Linked DNA regions of Homo sapiens: all the other regions are linked to region 1. The links come from fine-mapping of genetic effects on gene expression. A gene starts in region 1. Each other region holds a variant in brackets. All regions are shown on one strand. Distances are from middle to middle.

Region 1 (5,144 bases):
GCCTGTTCCAGCTGCCCATGGCCTTAGATAACTGATCACTGGGCTTGTCTTAGGAGCCAGGGCCCCACTTGGAGTGTTGGTTTCTTTTGCATTAGGGGAAGCCAGCATTCCAGAGGATACGGGAGAAGAGTGGGTGCACTCTTGGTTACCCAGTTTTCTAAAACCTCCCAAGTCCACCCTTTTCCTTAGCTGGCTCTTGTTCAAGGGGGATCTTAGCCTCCACCACTGGTTTGCTTCTGCTGGAGTCTCCCTGGCCCCAGCTCCTTCCCTTTAACTCCTACTATTCCTCTTCAGGGACCTAGGATCAGCTGCCCCCAATCTCACCCTTCCTGACTGTGCCCACCATTATCAATGTGGCAGAATTTGAAACCTTCCATATTCTGACTGCTGTAGAGCCAGGCCTTTTCTTCAAAACTCCCATGAGAAAAACCGACCTCCACTCTTCTCAGAATAAAAGCTTTCTCTTGTCACCTCCTGCTGCCCTCTGATCTCAGGAGGCTCAGTAAAATAGGAGTTAAGCACCCCAGGGCTACACAGGGGTTTTTTATTCTCACTCCCTCAGTTCCATGGCCCTCACTGGGATGAGTAACTTCCAGGGTTGCCTGCCCGGGCCTGCAGGCCTGTACGCCAAGTGAGTAGGGCAGGCAGGGGGATGGAAAGTGGGGATGCAGGCCTCATTTAAGAGGCCAGCATCCCAGCAATCAGGGCCTGGCTGACAGGCTCCTAGACACAGAGACCAAACCTGGAAGCCCCATAAGGGGCAAATGTATATCGCATTAACTATACCCCCAAGCCCACAGACACACAGCCAGGTGAACATCAGTGTGATCCCACAGAGTGGCCAGGACAGATGGGGAAGCAGCTCATATCACTAGGAAAATAAAAAGGTAATTTTAAAAACACAAAGTGTGAACTATTTCAAATTCCTCTCTAGCCAGTGTGTGTGCACATGCGCATGTTGTGTGTGTGAGTTATTCACTGTGTATCTATCCCCAGAGTGCTACTCAGGTCAGCAGGAGCATTTTTGTGTTTCTTGAATCACATAAGCAAGTCCCTATGCCCAATTAGTGTCTATGGTCTCTGGAGAAGTCCAGAGAGGGGCCAGAGGCCCCAGGGAGTTTCTGGAAGAGAGCAAGTGGATCCTGTGCCCAGGGGAAATGAGACTGGACATGGCTGATCCTTGGCAAGATATCTGAGACAGCAAATGACTCTCCTGCCCCTTCTAGGGATGCTTCTGGCCCCAGGTCCTCGCTCTGTCCTGTCACTGCCCCATCTTTGATCAGGCCATAGTCCCAGGCAGGTCCCTGGACTGGTGAATACACCCATCCTGTGTCTCACCTTCTTGAAGGCTTTGTGACTTTCAGACTGAAGAGTGGCTAAATCTATCCAGGCTAATGTGTTAACAATAAAGGGAAGAAAGCATTTCTCTCTACTTGTGGGGCTTTCTCCCCCTCTGGGGTACAGAATGTACATTTTAACTGGGGTATTCTGGAGACGATGTGTCCACTTCTGCTATTGCTATCAAGGAATGCCTTTTATTTCAGTCCAGGCAGGAAAGAGGCAGTGTCATGTCAGAGGAGGGATTCTGGGGGCGGCAGAGCCAGGCAGGGCACAGAAATTGCGCCATATTGCTACCTAGCTGGGCTGTTCCCTCACACATATGGTGGAGGAAGGGAGAAGAGAGGTGCTGAGATCTGGGCCCTCAGCAGGAAGGTGTCCCTCCTGTCCCACCAGTATGGGGCTCCTCCAGGGGTGGTACAGGCCAGCAGCCTGAGCACCAAATCCTTCCCATCTTAGCGGCTCCAGCCAGTGTGGCTGCCACATGCAGGGACTGGAACCCACACGTGCACAGCTGGGGGTCATGCAGGGCAGGCAAGCGACTGATGGTGACAAAGACAGTCCCTGACGTGCCTGCCGAATGTCTGCCTTCCCCAGGACACCCGCCTTGGCGAGCCTCCCATCCGCGATTCACGCACACCTTCATGCACACTGGCACGCTGAAACCCGGACTGAGGTTACTGCGGGCTTGGGGCTTCCGGAGAAGACGCAGGGGCAGGGCCTAGAAGGAGGGGCCGGAGGAGCCAGGGAGTCCTGGCCTGAGAGGAGGGGTAGGAGCCGTGGGTGGGGCAGGTTCCCTAAGCGGGGAGGGCGATGGGGGCTGACACTAGGGGGTGTCAGGGAGCGAGGAAATTGACCCGGCAGGATGAGGGCGTGGCGAGGGGGGCCTGGAGCTTGGCGACCCCGGGAAGGGGCTCCGGGAGGGTCTGGGGAATGAATGGGGCAACATATGGCGGCTACTGGGGATACCTGGGGCGGGGAGGGTCTGGGAGGGTCTGTGATACGGATCTGCGGAGCTGTCCGCCCTACCTGTCCGGGGAGCCGCCGTCTGGGGCCAAGGGCTCCCCCTCGGGCCGTTGCTCCCCTTCCGGACCCGGGCCGGGAGCCGGACCGCTGCCGCCGCTGCTGCTGCTGCTGTCACCGTCCATGCCCGTGGGCGGCACCGCTGTCCGGGCGCTGGTGCTGAAGCCGCGGCGGCGGCGGCGGCGGCGGCGGTGGCGGCGGCAGCGGCGGCGGGGTGCTCGTGCGCATGCGTAGGCTCTGAGCGGGCCGGTCGCTGGGCGGGGCGAGGAGGAGCCCAGCCAATGGGCGCGGCGCCGCTGCCGGAGCGGAGCGCTCTGTCTCTAAGATCCCGGGGCTGCGGATGTGAGCGCCCCTCTGCTCCCGCCAGGCCAGAGAGCCGCTGTTAGGAGTCCGGCCGTGCAACCCTTCCTAGCGGCCTCGGCCTTCCCGTAAGGAACCAGAGAGCGCGACACATGCAGAGATCCTCACAAATCAAAACGCAGACCCTTCCAGCCGGATAGAGGGCGAGCTCCACGCCCGCACTTCACCACGCTGGACGCCCCGGGTCGAGGCGGGCGGCTTCAGGCCTGCGAGGTTCCCGGCTCGCTCAGCGCCCTCCTCCCCTCCCCAGTGGGGCGAGGCATCAGGTTGGGTCTTTCTTCCCATCCTTCTGGACTTCGACTTGGACCTGGGTGTGCACCCCTTAGATGCGGAGCCCTGACTCCGTTACTCAAGTGCGCAGTCTGGTGAAGGAGGTGGGGGAAGAAGAGAGGCGCTCAGATCATCCCCAGCTCCTTCTCTTTCTTTTTTAAAATTTAAAAGGTTTATAAAGCAAACAAATCACAGTAAGCTAAGGTTAATTTTTGATTCAGGGGCACATGTGCAGGTTTGTTATAAGGGTATATTGAGTGATCCCAGATCCTTTTTTATAGTCACCGCTGCCCCCCCACCCCACCTCAGCCTGGGAGGTGCCCAATAGCCACTGACTCCAGGGCACTGGGAGGTGCCCAATAGCCACTGACTCCAGTGCCACCTCCCCCACCAGGGAGTAGCTGTGAGTAGAGCACATTTGGGTATGATGGACTGTGGACAGGCCTGGCTAAGGGGTCTAGAACTAGAATAGATATTGGCAGTGTGAGAAGCCTGGGGGGCTGGGAGTGGAGAGGATCCTGGATGTGGGATTTGACTAGGCAGAAAGGGTTTTACAGCAAGCAGGCTGTTCAGGGCCTGGTTACTTGTGCAGGGAGAGGCCTTGGTTGAAGACATGGGGCTGAGGAGAGAGTCAGGAACACTTGGACTATAGGTATCCCTAAAATGTGTGCCAATGCCAGTCCGTGTAAGACACAGGTCATAAGAAATGGGGTGGAAGAATCTAGAGGTGTAGAAGTGTTGGGTCTGCCCTGAATAGCTTATAGTTTGGTTGGAGAGATAAAGGGCCAGCCCATAAATTGCTGCCAATAGGCAAGATATGGTGAGGCCCATGAGGTGGTTGAGAAGGGGACAGTATGCAAAAAGGAAGGACCTCTTTCTTCCTAATAGGCCTTAGAGAAGGCTTCTTGGAGATGGTGGGGCTTCAGCTGGCTTGGAAGAAAGGGTGGGCTTTGAAATGTGGAGGTAGGAGAGAGGGAAGGCCTTCCTGACCTGGGGTGGGGGCATTCTTCCTTACCTGTGCAAACAAAGGTAAGGGGGCTGGAAAGTTCAGTGTATTTTAAGGGAATGGTGAGAAACCATCTGGATTGGAGGGAGGCTTCTGGTCTGTAGAGTGAGGCATGCAAGCTGCAACCTTGGAAGGCCCACCAGATCTGGATGTACAGGATGGCATAGAGGTAATGAGGCCACACTTGAAGTTCCTCGATGGGAGGGCACAGGAGTGAAAAGGAAAGGAGAGGTGACCTTACACAGCCATTTATAGTGAGCACCATGGCATTAAGCTTCTGAGAATGCCAGGATGGTTGCCCCATCTTCACAACTAGGGAGCTTGGAGACAACTGGGTCCTCTGACAGCCAGGTTGGATATGAAGGAAGACAGGCTCTTTAAAGAATAGAATGTGGCCTCTAGGAGGCTGTTTATTAGGAAGAGAAGATTGTGGTTTAGGCCTCATTCCAGGTCAGCTGGGCAATTCTCTCAGGCTTGCCATCTTGTGTCCTGTTTTCTTCTACTTCCTCAGTGATGTGGACCAGGGGGTGGGTGACCTGGGCCATGGCCAGGGGGAGGCCCGCAGGGCCCTGGACCATGGTGGGGGGGTGGCCCGCAGGGCCCTGGGCCATGGCCAGGGGGTGGCCCGCAGGGCCCTGGACCATGGTGGGGGGGTGGCCCGCAGGGCCCTGGGCCATGGCCAGGGGGTGGCCCGCAGTGACCTGGAGGATGGCCATGCCCCCCACAGTGGCAGTGCCCCTGTGGAAAGTCAAATGAACAATGTCAGAGTCAGAGGTCAGGGCTAAGCTTACCTGAGATCAGCTCTCCCTCACTCCACTTCCCTGGGGGACTCAGGATTTCTAGGCAAGTAAGGAGTTGCGGTGGAGGGCTGGGGGCATGGGTAGCATGTCCCGTGCCTTTTGCCTTGGTGAGGCCAGAACACTGAGCAGATAAAAGGCAAGCAACCTAGATTTATTGGTTTCTATTCTTTGAGCCAAGATATGACTCCCGCTCCCTGTACCTCGATTTATTTTATTTGCAACTAAGAAGCAGAATTATTTCATCTTCTCCTTTCTCTCACCCAGGAACCCTTGCAGAGTGATTAGAGGCTTTGCCATGCTAGGAACTGCAGGCTCATTGTACTTAGGAGCAAGGGTGAGGCTAGAGG
Region 2 (5,144 bases), 31 kb before region 1:
TGCAGCTAACCACCATGGCACACGTTTACCTGTGTAACAAGCCTACACACCCTGTACGTGTACCCCTGAACTTAAAAGTTGGAAAAAAAAAAACACGTTACTATCAGGGTAAATTTTCTGTATTATCTTTGTAACTTTCCTATAAATCTAAAATTATTTAGAAAGTTTATTAAAAATAAATAGAAAAACAGAAAAGACCCCACTATAAATCTACCTATCATGGTAGGAAATGGTCAGGGTGATGTCTGCCTCTCACCTGTAACTCCTCCATCTGCTTTTTGGCTGTTTCGTTAAAAAGCTTCAGCTCCTCTTGCAAAGTTTCTAACAGCAACTAAGAGGAAAGCACAATGTAGTAAACAAATCTTCATATAAAACCAGACTTGCATTAGATGATGGCTAACATCCTTTCCACACAGTTCTCAACAAAGGAGTCAGGAGAGAAATTTGATAAAGTATAGAACAGAAGAACGAGAAAGCTCTCTCTACAGGTTTACCTATTATGTGTTTTAAATTTTCAATTCAGACTCACTTATATTTGTAAGCACAAAGCTACCTTTCAAGTAAAATATGCTATTTTGAGTACACATCCCATTTCTCTTTTCTAGCATCACAGATAATCAAAGGCTGTTTCTTGGAGTTTATGGAATATATAGCAGAGACCTTCTTAGATTTACAGAGCCCCACAGTCACTCAGCCCTTGCGCCCTTTCACACCCATGCCCTCACCATAGAGTCCATGTGATCAGTAGTGGATTCTTGTCGTGATGCCAGGGTCTCACTGCCTAAAGCTGATGGATACAACAAAGTCAATCTCACTTAGGGAACTACACACCCTAAACAAAAGAAAATAAAAACCCTCCGTGGACAAGTACAGAAATATTCATGAGGGGAATTTCTCTTAAGTGTCTCATCCTGGACTTTCTCCTAAGTTTTCACCTTGGCAGGGTCACCCATATCTGCCCTGCAAAACTGTATTTTATCTCCTTTCAATCTAGGTTTTGATATGGCCAAAAATTCGGTATACTTTCTCCTTAGGTCAGTGGACAATTTGTCCAAAGGAAATGTATAGGTTGGATTTTTTTTGGTTTTGTTCACAATTCACAAAGCTATTTTTAAGAGCCTTTCAGGCCTTAAAAAATTATTACTTTCGGTAATATCACATGCATGTAATAAACTAAAATCATACAAAATATTTATGGTGTCGGATGTGGTGGTGCACACCTGTAGTCCCAGCTATTTGGGAGGATTGCTTGAGCCCAGGAGTTGGAGGCCAGCCTGGGCAACATAGCGAGATCCCATCTCAAAAAAATAAACAATTTTAAATTTAAAAACATATATATTTATGGTGACTATAAAGAATATCCTAGGCTGGGCATGGTAACTCATGTCTGTAAACCCAGCACTCTGGGAGGCCGAGACAGGCAGATCACTTGAGGTCAGGAGTTTGAGACCAGCCTGACCAACATGGCAAAACCCCATCTCTACTAAAAATACAAAAATTAGCTGGGTGTGGTGGTACACGCCTGTAATCCCAGCTACTCAGGAGGCTGAGGCAGGAGAATCACTTGAACCCAGGAGGAGGAGGTTTCAGTGAGCCGAAATCACACCTCTGCACTTCAGCTTGGGCAATGGAATGAGACTTCATCTCAAAAAAAAAAAAAGAATATCCTCAACTGTAACCTAAAGATTAACCAGTAACATTCAAAGTCAGTATTCCTTAATACAAAAAGGCCTGGGCCCCTTTCCTGGGCATTCTCTGGCTCTTTGACTCAGTCTGAGGCCCTCTTACAGTCTTTGGGCAATTCCTTCTTCTGCTCTCTTTGCTACAGATACTGCTTTCTGGGGGACAGGGTCAGAATAGTAGTCATATTTTAGTCACTGTAATTCTGATGATTAACCAGGTTTAAGAATGCTTGAAATAGTATTTTCTTTCTCTTCCCATTTGGGATTACTAGTATGCTTGAAAGGAAGAGCATGTTCAAACAAAATGTTCCTTTCAAGCACACTAGTAACTTTCCCAAATAGGAAGAGACAGAAAATGTTCTCCCTTGAAAGGAACAAAGTGTTTCTCATCTATTTGCAAGGTCATACCTGTTGGCACTAAATGAATGGCATAAAGTGTTCAGGTAAGAAAGAGATAACCCTCTCTCTATAATCATCTGAAATCCTATTGGCCAGGCAAAAATCAACATCACATGAAAACAAACAGAAGCTTTCCAAAATCTTTAGGGCTTTATGAAAGTAACCCCTGCACATACTGGGCCAGCTGATGCCATGCTGCCAAGATCAACCCCGGAAGGGGCACATGCACCAATTCCTTCAAAGGAGGCTAGCTGTGTGCTGTCTCTTACCTGGATCAAGGCCCTTGCTCTCCAAAATTGCCAAACAGTTGTCCCGAAACTTCTCCAGCAGCTCTACCTTCTGGGTCAGGTCCTTCAGCTCTCCCTATTGGAGCACAGCACAGACAGATCAGGAATTGTCCAACTCCCTAGGGGTGGTTGCCCTTTCTTGCCCTTGCTCTTGGACAGCCATAGCAAAAGCCTGGCTTTTTTTTTCTGCCCTTGGGCATCTGTGCATTAACAAGCTTGCTCATCCAAGGGGCCACCCATCAGGATTCCATGTGGATCGCCCAGTGGCAGCTGGTAACAGAGCTCTGGTGGGTCTCTTACCTGAGTTTCAGTCAACTTCTGGTGCAACTGCTTGTTGACGGCTTCTAACAGCTGGTTCTTGTCCTTGAGCTCTTCCTCTGATTTTTGCTTACTCAGTGGTTTGTAGCTGTAATAATAGTTGTACTTACATGAAAAGATAAAAGGGTTAACAGTATGGCCCACACCAGGTGCGGTAGCTCATGCCTGTAATCCCAGCACTTTGGGAGGCTGAGGCAGGCAGATCACCTGAGGTCGGGAAATCAAGACCAGCCTGACCAA[G/A]ATAAGAGAAACCCTGTCTCTACTAAAATTACAAAAGATTAGTCAGGCGTGGTGGCGCATGCCTGTAATCCCAGGTATTTGGGAGGCTGAGGCAGGATAATCGCTTGAACCCAGGAGGCGGAGGTTGTGGTGAGCTGAGATTGCGCCATTGCACTCCAGCCTGGGTGGCAACAAGAGCAAAACTCCGTCTAAAAAAAAAAGAAAGAAAAATACGGCCTACAGAGTTACACAAACACGTCCCATTCTATCCTGGCTATTACACAGTGGTATATGACCTTCAGTGAGTTGCATAACCTCCCTGAGGCCTTGTTTCCTCATTTTTGAAATCAGGACAATACCCACATCTCATAGTATTATTATTATGAGTAATAAGAGAGAAAACACGTGTGCATTTCTTAGCCCAGTAGCTGGGCTATTATCTAATGTTAGTTTATCATCTAATAAACTCTAATATCACCAATTGTTGGGAGCAGGCCCCCCAAATCTGGCCATAAACTGGCCCCAAAACTGGCCATAAACAAAATCTCTGCAGCACTGTAACATGTTCATAAAGGCCCTAATGCCCATGCTGGAAGGTTGTGGGTTTACGGGAATGAGGGCTAGGAACACCTGGCCTGCCAAGGGCGGAAAACCACTTAAAGGCATTTTTTTTTTTTTTTGAGATGGAGTCTCGCTCCGTCGCCCAGGCTGGAGTGCAGTGGCGTGGTCTCGGCTCACTGCAAGCTCCACCTCCTGGGTTCACACCATTCTCCTGCCCCAGCCTCCCGAGTAGCTGGGACTACAGGCACCCGCCACCATGCCTGGCTAATTTTTTGTATTTTTAGTAGAGACGGTGAAACACCATAGTTAACCAGGATGGTCTCCTGACCTTGAGATCCACCCGCCTCGGCCTCCCAAAATCCTGGGATTACAGGCGTGAGCCACTGCGCCGGCCCTTAAAGGCATTCTTAAGCCACAAACAATAGCATGAGCAATCTGTGTCTTAAGAGCGTGTTCCTGCTGCAGTTAACTAGCCCAACCTATTCCTTTAATTCAGCCCATCCATTTCCCATAAGGGATACTTTTAGTTAATTTACTATCTATAGAAACAATGCTAATGACTGGTTTGCTGTTAATAAATACGTGGGCAAATCTCTGTTCGGGGCTCTCAGCTCTGAAGGCTGTGAGACCCCTGATTTCCCACTTCACACCTCTATATTTCTGTGTGTGTGTCTTTAATTCCTCTAGCGCCGCTGGGTTAGGGTCTCCCCGACCAAGCTGGTCTCAGCAACCAATATTAGAGTTTTTTCTTAAAGTTCTCAGTCTTTTTTGCTAGTATTTTGTCTTCAAAACTTTTTTATTTTTGTAAGTCAGAGTCTTGCTCTGTCACCCAGGCTGGAATGCAATGACGTGATCTTGGCTCACTGCAATCTCTGCCTCCCGGGATGAAGTGATCCTCCTGCCTCAGCCTCCTGAGTAGCTGGGATTACAGACATGCGCCACCATGCCTGGCTAATTTTTGTATTTTTAGTAGAGATGGGGTCCCATCATGTTTCCCAGGCTAGACTCGAACTCCTGACCTCAGGTGATCCACCCACCTTGGCCTCCCAAAGTGTTGCGATTACAGGTGTGAGCTGGTGTGCCCTGCTGTCTTCAAAACTTTTAAGATATGCCCAAATAATAGATCTGGAACTAAAACCTATTTGTACAGACTTTTCAGCTTATTATTTCTATTTCTGATAGTGCAAAACTTCCAAACTAGCCTCAAAGATGAGACATGAATCCTTCTCCAGGTTTTCACCACCACCACCACCAGAATCTTCATCTCGAGATCACTAACTACATACACCCAGCCCTTCCTCTCCTGAAGGCTTTACCCTCCTGTTGATGGGCCATAGCTAAGTGTGATTTCCAATCAGCAGTGGTCCTGGCGTGGAGTCCAAAAAGCTCTTGCTTGAGACACAAGATAGTAGCACCAGTGATTCTTGCACTGACAATGGTTCTTACACCTAGCTGTGCCTCACCCCTGAAAATTCCACTCAGGTTCCTGAGGTGGAACCCAGACCCTAACACAGTAAACAAGTCCCACAAATGATTCTGATGCAGAACCAAGGATTGAGATCCACTACCCTAGAATAGTGGCCAAGTTGATTTACCCTGATGCTCACCCTTTTCTGACATTCCTTCTGGTGGCAGTGTCAGTAGCTTTCATTTGCCTAGGAGGGCAGAAACAAAGAAA
Region 3 (5,144 bases), 60 kb after region 1:
CCACGACCCCCATTGATCACCTGCCCACATGAATCCCAGGAGGAGCATTTACCCCACAGCCACAGCTCTGCAGAGTTGGTGACTCCTTGATGCAGTCAGTCACAGGGATCCAAATGTGGCGTTGGGGAGAGGTAGGAATGGGCTCCTGCGGCTCCCCTACAGCCAGCAACACTTACCTGTGGTCAGCACACATCCACCCTCCCTCTCTCCTGCTGCCTGAGCTCCTCCCTTGGCTAAGTCCTCCTTATCTATCTGCTTTCCTTGTGTCTCAGTAGAGGCTACTGACCCAACTTTGCTTGGAGCTGAAGCTCCAGAGACAGGGAGGGGTTTGGGGAGATCCAGTTAGACTCTCCTGCTCAGACCCTCTGCTCCAAACTAAGACTGATGTTGGCCTTCCAGTGTGATTCTGAAAGACATTTAATGTTTTTTTTGGGGGGGGAAGGAATGCAAAGGTGCAGAATCCCTGAATACCACAAATGTACTTTTCATTTCTATTTCTATAGATTTGCCTATTCTGGTGGTAAAGTAAATGAAATCATAAATATATGCTTTTCGATGTCAGGCTGTATTCATTTCTCATAATGTTTTCAAGGTTTATCCATGTTGTAGCATGCATGAGTACTTCATTCCTTTTTACCACCTAATAATATTCCATTGTATGGATATACCACATTTTGTTCATCTGTTTATCAGTTGGTAGATGTTTGGGTTTTTTGTACTTTTTGGTTATGAATATTCATGTACATGATTTTGTGTGAACATGTGTAAATTCTCTTGGGTATATACCCAGGGGTGGAATTGTTGGGTCATGTGGTCACTCTATATTTAACAATTTGAGAAACCGCCAAACTGTTTTCTAAAGTGAGAGCATTGTGTAGGGATTTATTTATTTATTTTTGAGACAGAGTCTCACTCTGTTGCCCGGGCTGGAGTGCAGTGGCGTGATCTCAGTTCACTGCAACCTCTGCCTCCCAGGTTCAAGCAATTCTCCTGCCTCAGCCTCCCAAGTAGCTGGGATTACAAGCATGTGCCACCATGCTGGGCTAATTTTTGTATTTTTAGTAGAGATGGGGTTTCACCATGTTGGCCAGGCTGGTCTCGAACTCCTGACCTCAGGTGATCCACCCTCCTCGGCCTCCCAAAGTGCTGTGTGGGGTTTTAGGTTAGTCACATCCCGCTGACACTTGTGATTGTCTGTTTTTTGTTTTAGCCATCCTAGTGGGAGTGGTATCTCATTGTGGTTTTGATTTGCATGTCTCTAACTACAAATTATATTGAGCACCTTTTCTGTGTTTATTAGTCACTTATATATCTTCTTTGGAGAAATACCTGTCCAAATCCATTGTCCATCTTTCAACTGGGTTGTCTTTTTGTTGACTTATCTCTTATCGGATATCTGATTTGCAAATATTTTATCCCATTCTGTGGGTTACCTTTTCACTTTCTTGATGGTGTCCTTTGAAGCACAAAAGTTTTTAATTTTGATGACGTTTAATTTATCTTTCTTTGTCCCGGTGCTTTTGGTGTCTCCAAATATTATTGTTGAATTGTCCTCCTTTCAATTCTATCAGTTTTTGTTTTATATATTATGGGGTTCTGTTGTTAGGTGCATATATGTTTATATTCAAATTGCTTCTTTTTGAATATTTGTCCTCCACTTAAAAAAGATAGCCTACTAGCCTGGCAAGCAGCATCATTTCTTCTGACCTCTTTTCTACCTCATTCTGGTTATTCTTAGTTCCGATCCTGCCCCAGCCAATGGAATAGCCACTGTACAAAATCAGGGTCAGAGCAAACCAGCTAAGCATGCTCTCTGCTCAGCAACCAGGGCCTTGAGAAGTGGATGCTTGGGTGTCCTTGAAGTTCTTCTGTCTGCCTTGAGCCCGCCTTCTGACCAGGTCCCCTTGACCAGGGCTGGGCCGAGTTTGTGGTTCTTAGCTCTGAGAAGGTGAGGGCAGGGGCAATAAGGTTACTATGCCCCTAGAATGACGCCATCAATCCTGAGGACTTCCCAGAACCTGTCTACAAGAGTTTCCTCATGAGCCTCTGTCCTCGGCCAGAAATAGATGAGATCTTCACTTCTTAGTGAGTTTCTTGGGTTGTGCTGGTCATGGGAAAAGGGTGGTGGCTAACAATCCCCTCCTCCCACCTGCCATGCCGGGAGTCAGGAGGCTTCACTGGACAAGGGGGTTGTCTAAGCCTCCAGGCCCAAGGGATATGGACCTGTGCTCTTCTCT[CTG/G]GCTTGAAGCCATGCTAAGGCCAAACCCTACATGACGAAGGAGCACCTGACCAAATTCATCAACCAGAAACAGCGGGACTCCCGGCTTAACTCCCTGCTGTTCCCGCCAGCACGGCCTGACCAGGTGCAGGGCCTCATCGACAAGTATGAGCCCAGTGGCATCAATGCACAGAGGGGTGAGGACTAAGGGAACCCCTTGTCCCCTGTGGTCCTGTCCTGCCTTGGCAGCGGGGTTGTAGCCTGACAGCTATCTCCTGTCCCCCAGGCCAGCTGTCACCTGAAGGCATGGTCTGGTTTCTCTGTGGGCCAGAGAACAGCGTGCTGGCCCAGGACAAGCTGCTGCTCCACCACGACATGACGCAGCCACTCAATCATTACTTCATCAACTCGTCCCACAACACCTACCTGACAGGTGGGCCCTGATAACATTGGTGCCAACCTCTGCTTTCACAGGGGTTCCCTGCATCCTCCACAGGGGTTGCCCACATGCTGCTGGCCCTGAGAATAACACAGACCATGATGGAGTGGCGGTAGGGGGAGAGCTGGGCTGCCTTTGGGTGATGCCCTCACCTCTTCCCCATCCTCTGGCTCAGCCGGCCAGTTCTCAGGCCTCTCCTCGGCTGAGATGTACCGCCAGGTGCTGCTCTCTGGCTGCCGTTGCGTGGAGCTAGACTGCTGGAAGGGGAAACCCCCTGACGAGGAGCCCATTATCACCCATGGCTTCACCATGACCACAGACATCTTCTTCAAAGTGAGACCCTGGGCACAGAGGCTGGTGGCCGTGGCAGTAGGGAAGGGCTCTGGGCCAGAAGCTTTGAGGGGTTGGAGGGCTGAAGCTAGAGAAGATGAATGGCTGGAAGGCCTCAGACCATTGGGGACCAGCAGGGATTGGGGGCCAATGGCGGCCATGCAGTTATATGTGTGTATTGAAACTAGGCAGGGGGGAAAAGTGCTATCACGAGACAGGCAGTCGGAACGCTGACCTTCTGTTCATGGAGTCTCCTTCTCCTCCAGGAAGCAATTGAGGCTATTGCAGAAAGCGCCTTTAAGACCTCCCCCTATCCCATCATCCTGTCGTTTGAGAACCATGTGGACTCGTGCGTATCCAGGCCCATTCAGCCACATTCTCACCCAGCCCCCAGTCTCCTGTCTGCAACTGTCCTCCCCACAACTGCCCCAGCCTCTAACCATTGCCTACAGCTTCTCCCACGTCTCAGTATAATCACCCTAAGGCCTCATGTTCTCCTGCTCGAGTCCCAGCCTCCCTGACCTCCTGGCCCCTGATCTGGGTCATCAAGGGCACAAAAGGATGCATAATAGGGTTGGTGCTGAGCGGCTGAACCCCATCCCCGCTTTTGCTCCCCGCAGACCCCGCCAGCAGGCTAAGATGGCTGAGTATTGCCGGACGATCTTTGGGGATATGCTGCTCACAGAGCCCCTGGAAAAGTTCCCAGTGAGTGGGCTTCGCTGTGGGACATTTGAGCCTTGGGCCTGGGAACCTGGGGCAGGGTGAGAACCAGGTTAGGGAGGGAGACACTCCCAGAGGATGCTAGGGTTCACTTGGTTAGATGCGGGTCTGGGATCCTGTCACCTTCCGTGTGTCAGGCACTGGGCTGGGCTTCAGGGTATGCTAGTGACAAAGACACAGTCACTGCCCTCAGGTGTATTACCCTCTAGTGAGGAGACAGACAAGTAACCAGGCCATTACAATCCAGTGGTTGTTATGGGAGCACCTGGGGAGTTCTGATCTGGTCTTGGGGATCAGGGAAGGCTTCCTGGAGGAAGTGATGGACAGGGCTCCTAGAGTAGCCTGTTAGGTCCTCCTGGTGCAGATGGCCTTGGGCCAGGGTCCCATACTCAGGGACAGCTACAACAAGCACAAGATGAGCCGCATTTACTCCAAGGGATAAGCTGGATTTATCTCAGTGAGAATGGGGATGATAAGCAGTAGTGAGAGGCAGGTCAAGAGGAGTGGGGGAGGCCGAGGGAGCATGCCTGGTAATAAGGAGCTCAGGCTATGCCATGAAGGTGAGAAGATGGTGCTGACCTGCTCTCCACTCCATAGCTAAAACCAGGTGTCCCCCTGCCCAGCCCTGAGGATCTCAGGGGCAAGATCCTCATCAAGAACAAGAAGAACCAGTTTTCTGGCCCCACCTCCTCCAGTAAGGATACTGGTGGGGAGGCTGAGGGCAGCAGCCCACCCAGTGCCCCTGCAGGTGAGGGCACAGGTGAGTCGGGGAGGACTATGGTGGGGGGTATTAGGAGCATCTGGAACAGGAGAGGGGCTGGACCTGGAGGAGCCATGCAGGAGCCAGTGCCGACAGAGCTGTATGTGGCAGTGTGGGCTGGCGAGGAAGGGACTGAGCTGGAGGAGGAGGAGGTGGAAGAGGAAGAGGAGGAGGAGTCAGGAAACCTGGATGAAGAAGAGATTAAGAAGATGCAGTCGGATGAGGTGTGTGGGGGTAGCCCCAGGCCCCTCTGTGTCATCCTCCACCGTTAAGCCCCCTGGATGGGGGCCTTGGGCCCCATTCCTGGGCTCTGCACCATCCTCCTCTTCTTTGCCCTCCCCTCTTCTCCTTAGGGCACAGCGGGCCTGGAAGTGACGGCTTATGAGGAGATGTCCAGCCTAGTCAATTACATCCAGCCCACCAAGTTCGTCTCCTTTGAGTTCTCTGCCCGTAAGTTAGCATGAGTAACTTACGGGTGGGTAAGAAGAAGGGGGATCTCCCCCTTCCTTGGACTTGGGGCCCTGCCTATAAATATCCAGCCACGGAGTCAGGCAAAGGGCTTGCTTAAGTGGCAGTGGCTCCCAGTTTCTCTAGTGAGGAACTTGGCACCAAACAGAATGCTCTGGAGTGTGTCGGTGACAGGCTGGGCGTTATGACAGGCCACCTTGGCTGGGATG
Region 4 (5,144 bases), 110 kb before region 1:
CAGAGCTGGGTCCTGGAGCTACCAGGCAAGAACCCTGCTTCCGTTTTCCTTTCCTTGGAAAAATGTAAAGAACTGGCAGGTGTAGGAAATTTTGAGACTGGAGCAGAAAGGCACAAAAGTCATTTATAAGGTATGATTGCTCACTCTAGTCCTGAGGCACATGGGGTGGATAAATGGGGGATCAGAGCCACAGGGTCCCTGGCTCTGGTCATGCTTGCCCCTGGCTGGTACCATCTCTGAGTTTGGCCACAGGTTAAATTAAGGTAGACCAAGTGGACTGCATAATCCTGGCAGCCCGGGGTCTGGAGCCAGTCTTTAGATCAGATGTGTTGCTTCATTGGCAAACTGGTGTCTGCCCCCCAAGAGATCCCCCCAATGAGGAGCAGCAGGTCTCCTGCCTAGCCCTGTCCTCTGAGTCACTGTGGGTGCCCACCCTGGACAAGGAACTTCTGAGGGCAGTCTCTGCCATCCAGGATCCTGAGAAGCCCCAAGCCCCAGAGCCAGAGTTTCTCCGAATGACAGGCAGAAGCACAGAAAGCTGGCGTTGAAACCAGTCCCCACCAGCTGCTGGCCCCACACCCATGGTCACTGCTGACACGCCTCCTTGGTGACATTAGGCAGTGGGTAGGCAAAGAGGGAGAAGTCCAGGATATACTTAGGCAGCACATCCTGCAGCAGGGCCCGGGGGGCACTGCACAAGTGGTAATGCAGGCTTTCGGGGCTGGCTGGCCGGTACCAGGCCTGGCGAGCTGGAAATCGGACGTGAGGTGGTGCCCGTACCCACTCCAGCACCTGATTTGCATCAGCCTCCAGCCTCTCATAGGAGCCCACAAAGTCATAGTGCACGGCACAAGGCTGGCACAGGTGGTACACGGGCATCCAATGCTCATTCATGCGCTCAGGGTCCTCATCCACCAGGTATCTCAGGAACTCGGGGAATGTGACATCGTCGCCTGCAGGGCTGGGCCCCGCTCCAGCCCTGTACCGCCTCACTATCTCAGCCCCATAGCGTTGCTGGTACTCTCGGATCTCGCCAAACTTGTTGCGGTAGGCAGAGAGGAGGCGTTCCAAGGGCTCCCGCACAAACAGGAACTTAAAGTAGTGCTGCAGGCGGTAGCGAATCTCCTCAGGCCGCAGGTCGGCCAGGAACACCAGGTCACTGCGGTGGTCCATCTTGAGGCGGACGTCCACGCTGTCCAGGACGCCTGCCAGCACCTTCATCACCCGCTTCCAGTTAGAGCAGGCCACCTTGGGGACGTAGCAGTAGAGGAAGCGGTAACGGTCACTTACGAGGATGTGGCGCAGCAGGGTGCGCCGCTGCCCCACCGGCAAGTCCCAGGGGTCCCGGGGCATGCCTGGCTGTCCGCACACCGCCCGCAGGGTCCTGTTCCGGACGTCCTGCCGCACTTGCAAGTCCGCGTCCCCAGCCCTGAGGGACAGGCCCCCAGGCTTGGGGGCTTTCCCGCGCCAGGCTGTGCCCTCGCGGCCGGGCGGGTGCAGGGGCAGGGGCTTCATCTCGGCCAGGATGCCCCGCTCGATCATGAGCAGCAGCCCGCTGGAGGCCACGATCACCGCAAACATCAGCATGGACGGCAGCAGCAGGGGCGGCCCACCCAGCCCCGCCCGGGCCCTGCCCAGAGGGGCCCGCCTCAGCGCCCGGCCCAGGGGCTCGGCGCCATTTGGGGCCGCCAGCGGGGTCAGCGGGCGGGGGAACATGGTGCTCAAGGGGTGGGGGCCTGCGCGGGCCCGGCCGATCCGAGGGCGGCCTGGAAGGCGGGCTCGGGCTGGGGGCGGGAGGAGGGTCTGGGACCGGGGGTAGTTGGGGAGGGGAGGGCAGGGGACAGCCCTGGCGCGTGTAGGGGTGGCCGGCTCCCGGGCTGCGGCGCCGAAGCGGGCGGCGGGCGGCGGGCGCGGCGAGGGACCCGGGCCGGATGTCCCGCCCGGCCGCTCTCCACCCCCGGCCTCGCAGTGACACAGGCGCGGGGGCGGGCCCACGCCGGGGGCGGGGAGAGGGGCGGGCGCCCCTGCGGGGCGCGGGCTTGGGAGGGCGCACGCGGACCCCTACCCGGAAGAGGGCGCCTGAGTCAGGGCCACCCCTGTCCTCTGGGCTTGGGGACAAAAGCTCCTGAGACCTCGAAGGCAGAAAAGACTCGAGGCTGCTCTCCTGCAGCGTGTGTCCTCAGGGAAGTGGACAAGGGGGATTCGCCACAAACTCAGGCCTGTCCTAGCCCTTCCTCCAGCAACGGGTCTGGAGGCAGGGAGGCGGGCAGCGCTCTCTCCGAGTCCAGACGTGCCGGAGGCTGGTCTTTCCAGCTGGAAGCGGAGCCCTCGGTGTGCTCCCCCTTGCCACCCTTAACTCCCTCCGTCCTGCAGGTCGTGGCCACTCCAGGAAGGAGAAGCAGAACTGTCAGACACTGACCAGT[C/GTC]TCCATGGTGACCCTTGTGTTTAGCAATACCTGGGGACTGACTACAGTGCTTGTCCACTGGGTAATGCTGAAATGTCTGGAAATGGAGTCTCCCCTCCTCTGCCTTCTCCTCATGAGGCAGTGGGATAACTGGGCACTCTGGGGAGGGTCTGACACATTGGTCCATCAGCTGCTGGTGTGGCCAACACACATTTGGAAGGGTGAGGAGCTGGGGGCACAAAACAGCAGGGAAACAGCACGTAGTCTCCTTGCCTGGAGCTAGATGTGTGCTCCATGGCACCAGGCTGGTCACTTGGGCGGACAGCAGACCCGAAGTGCTTTGGATGTCAGCAACCACCATTTCCCACTGGGAACCTGGCTCAGTAGCCAGACTTGGTCCAGCTATGTGCTTGCTGCCTGCAGAGAGCCAGCAAGCCTCTGAAGCAGCAGAGGAATATGATTAGAGCCCAAGTGTACTGAGGACAGCGCCCACTAAGTGTTTTATATTCATTATCTCCTTTAGTTGTTACAGCCACCCTGGCAGGGAGCTAGTGTGGACATTCCCTTTGTACAGCTGAAGTAACAGAGGCTCAGGGAAGATGTGACTCAGTATGGGTGGTTCTGAGTCTAAAACCTAAATTTCTAATCACGGCCCTTCAGAGATTAAAGGAGCATATCATGGAATGGCTAGAAGGGAGGAAGCAGCTGACTCGAGGGCGGACTGTACAGAGCAGGTGATGGAAAATAGAAGATACCAGTGGGAGAATGGAGCTACCAGTGATCAGATGAATTCAGAAGGGTGAGGGGACTTGAGGGATGAGGTGATACTAGAGGGCTCACTGATGACCCCACAATCCCAGCAACAGGAAAAGCACACAGATGAGCCAGGGGAAGGAACGGTAAAGCCTTGCAGCCTTCCAGCTCTCCAGGGCAGGCTCTCCACATCTGATTGCCCCAGTGCATCTGCAGGCTACCACCTGTCCATTTGCTGCACCAGAAGTTTGCGTGAAGGTTCTGCCTTGTCTACACTGCTCCTTGCTTCCAATAATCCTAAAGGTATACATTTCTGGTGATAGGATTTTCTATTAAAATCATATTTTCCAGTAAGTATGTCCTTTAAACCAGGAGAGGAAAAAAAGGCCTTAGACCTTTAAAAATCTTTTGATAATGTGGCCACATGTGCTCCCTTCTGTGTTACAGGGTAGTTTTCTGTGTTAGCAGTCAGGGTGAGGCAGGGGGAGTCCTTGGGCCTGGTACTTATCTCCATACCAATTTCTTGTCTGTAAGATAAGGACAAGCTACCACTCGCCTCAAGGGAGTCTTGTGGACACCACACTGAAGGCAGAGCTAGAAAAATCCATGGTGGTGTCTGTGCCACCAATAAATTCTGAAAAAATGTTCCTGCCCACATGCACCATGCCTTAGCAAAATGCAGAAGTGGAGGCGGGGCGGGGGGGTGCTGTGGCTCCCAGGAACCTCTATGGCCTTAGAGCTGCCCCACCTGGAACATGGTCAACACTGAGGCTTCCAGGCTGGGACCAGGGCTGGGCTGAAGCAGGGGTCAGCTGGCCGCAGACCCTTGGCCCCATGATGTGGCCTTCCTCAGCAAGCAAGAAGCACCAGCTGCAAGACACTGAGGCCCTAGGACAGTGCTGGCCAGTTACCCAAGGTGATGAGGAGGGATGCTTTTTTTTTCTTTTCTGAGACAGGATCTCACTCTGTCACCCAGGCTGCAGTGGTATGATCACGGCTCACTGCAGCCTCGTGCTCTTGGGATCAAGCAATCCTCCTACCTTAGCCTCCTGACTGAGACTATAGGCATGCACTGACATGCCGGGCTAATTTTTAAATTTTTCGAGAGACATGGTCTATGTTGCCTAGGCTGGTCTTAAACTCCTAGGCTCAAGTAACCCTCCTGCCTCTGCCTCCCAAAGCACTGGGATTACAGGCAGGAGCCACTGCATGAGGCCAGTGATAAGAAGGTATCTTTGCCATGTACCTACTTGGGGACCAATTTCCAGGTCACTGGTCAGGTGAGGGCTGGCAACTGAAGTATTTCACACAGACCTAAGCAGGCAGCTGTGGCCACCATGAAATCAAGAAGTCAACTCCAAGTTCCCAGTCCCTCTGTCTCCTTCCCTCACTCTCTTTTCCCTCTGCTTCCCTGCCCTCTTTGCTCATTGGCCTTGGTGAGCATCCATGCCACAGGGGTTAAGAGGGACCTCTGAAATAAGAATAGTGGGTCTCTCCACACCCACACACCAAAAGATGACAGGACACACAGGAAACGATCCTTTTCTAAATCAATACAATTTCTCAAATTTATTTTTTTCTTAAAGAAGTACTTCTAATCTCTGTCAAAAGGGAGGTGAGGAAAGGTCCTTCCTCCCTTGTAAACACTGAAATACAGATCTGGGAAACCAGGATCAACACACACAAAAAGTGCATTTTACAAAATATCAACTAAAATATATTTTACATGGATTATGCTTCCATTGAAATTCTACCAGCTGCATTTTCAGGTTCGAAAAAATATTTCCACATCTAAGAGATTTCAAAAGCATTTAAGTTCGGGGCAGCCAAGACCCTACCTCCTGGGAGGAGGGCCTTCATCTCCTTTCCTGCTAGGTGAGGCTGGGCTCCTTGGCAGCAAGGGCCCAGAATGAGCAGGCTCCAAGGCTGGCTCTGCAGAGCCCCCACTGCCACTCTGCCAACCTCATTTACTGCCCCATCCTCCCAGAC

Evidence for each region. PIP is the estimated chance that this variant, and not a neighbour inherited with it, causes the effect.
Region 2: its variant is the best candidate, but not a certain one, in a credible set for the expression of DISP2 in transverse colon (GTEx, PIP 0.89).
Region 3: its variant is the best candidate, but not a certain one, in a credible set for the expression of DISP2 in subcutaneous fat (GTEx, PIP 0.84).
Region 4: its variant is the best candidate, but not a certain one, in a credible set for the expression of DISP2 in fibroblasts (GTEx, PIP 0.86).

Annotation. Positions count from the first base shown.
Region 1 is chr15:40,355,664-40,360,807 of GRCh38, reverse strand. It overlaps DISP2 (dispatched RND transporter family member 2), which reads right to left and starts at 2,589. Exons shown (of 8, transcript NM_033510.3): 1 at 2,368-2,589. The coding sequence starts at 2,486. It overlaps PHGR1 (proline, histidine and glycine rich 1), which reads right to left. Exons shown (of 4, transcript NM_001145643.2): 4 at 4,374-4,735. The coding sequence ends at 4,505. It overlaps LOC124903472 (a long non-coding RNA gene), which reads left to right. Exons shown (of 4, transcript XR_007064597.1): 4 at 1-902. RefSeq lists a silencer at 2,409-2,668.
Region 2 is chr15:40,387,136-40,392,279 of GRCh38, reverse strand. KNSTRN (kinetochore localized astrin (SPAG5) binding protein) reads right to left here. Exons shown (of 9, transcript NM_033286.4): 4 at 5,074-5,121; 5 at 2,669-2,774; 6 at 2,351-2,444; 7 at 726-787; 8 at 257-331. Among named protein-coding and RNA genes, the nearest start is that of KNSTRN, 7.0 kb to the right of the region's middle. The variant G/A (reference allele first, on the strand shown) is at 2,927.
Region 3 is chr15:40,296,069-40,301,212 of GRCh38, reverse strand. PLCB2 (phospholipase C beta 2) reads left to right here. Exons shown (of 32, transcript NM_004573.3): 8 at 1,985-2,085; 9 at 2,249-2,415; 10 at 2,505-2,651; 11 at 2,833-2,990; 12 at 3,254-3,336; 13 at 3,608-3,692; 14 at 4,305-4,467; 15 at 4,579-4,691; 16 at 4,821-4,917. Among named protein-coding and RNA genes, the nearest start is that of PLCB2, 9.3 kb to the left of the region's middle. The variant CTG/G (reference allele first, on the strand shown) is at 2,238.
Region 4 is chr15:40,467,786-40,472,929 of GRCh38, reverse strand. It overlaps BAHD1 (bromo adjacent homology domain containing 1), which reads right to left. Exons shown (of 7, transcript NM_014952.5): 7 at 4,694-5,144. It overlaps CHST14 (carbohydrate sulfotransferase 14), which reads right to left and starts at 1,946. Exons shown (of 1, transcript NM_130468.4): 1 at 1-1,946. The coding sequence starts at 1,716. The coding sequence ends at 586. RefSeq lists enhancers at 179-1,082, 2,365-2,474 and silencers at 1,535-1,784, 1,835-2,074. The variant C/GTC (reference allele first, on the strand shown) is at 2,424.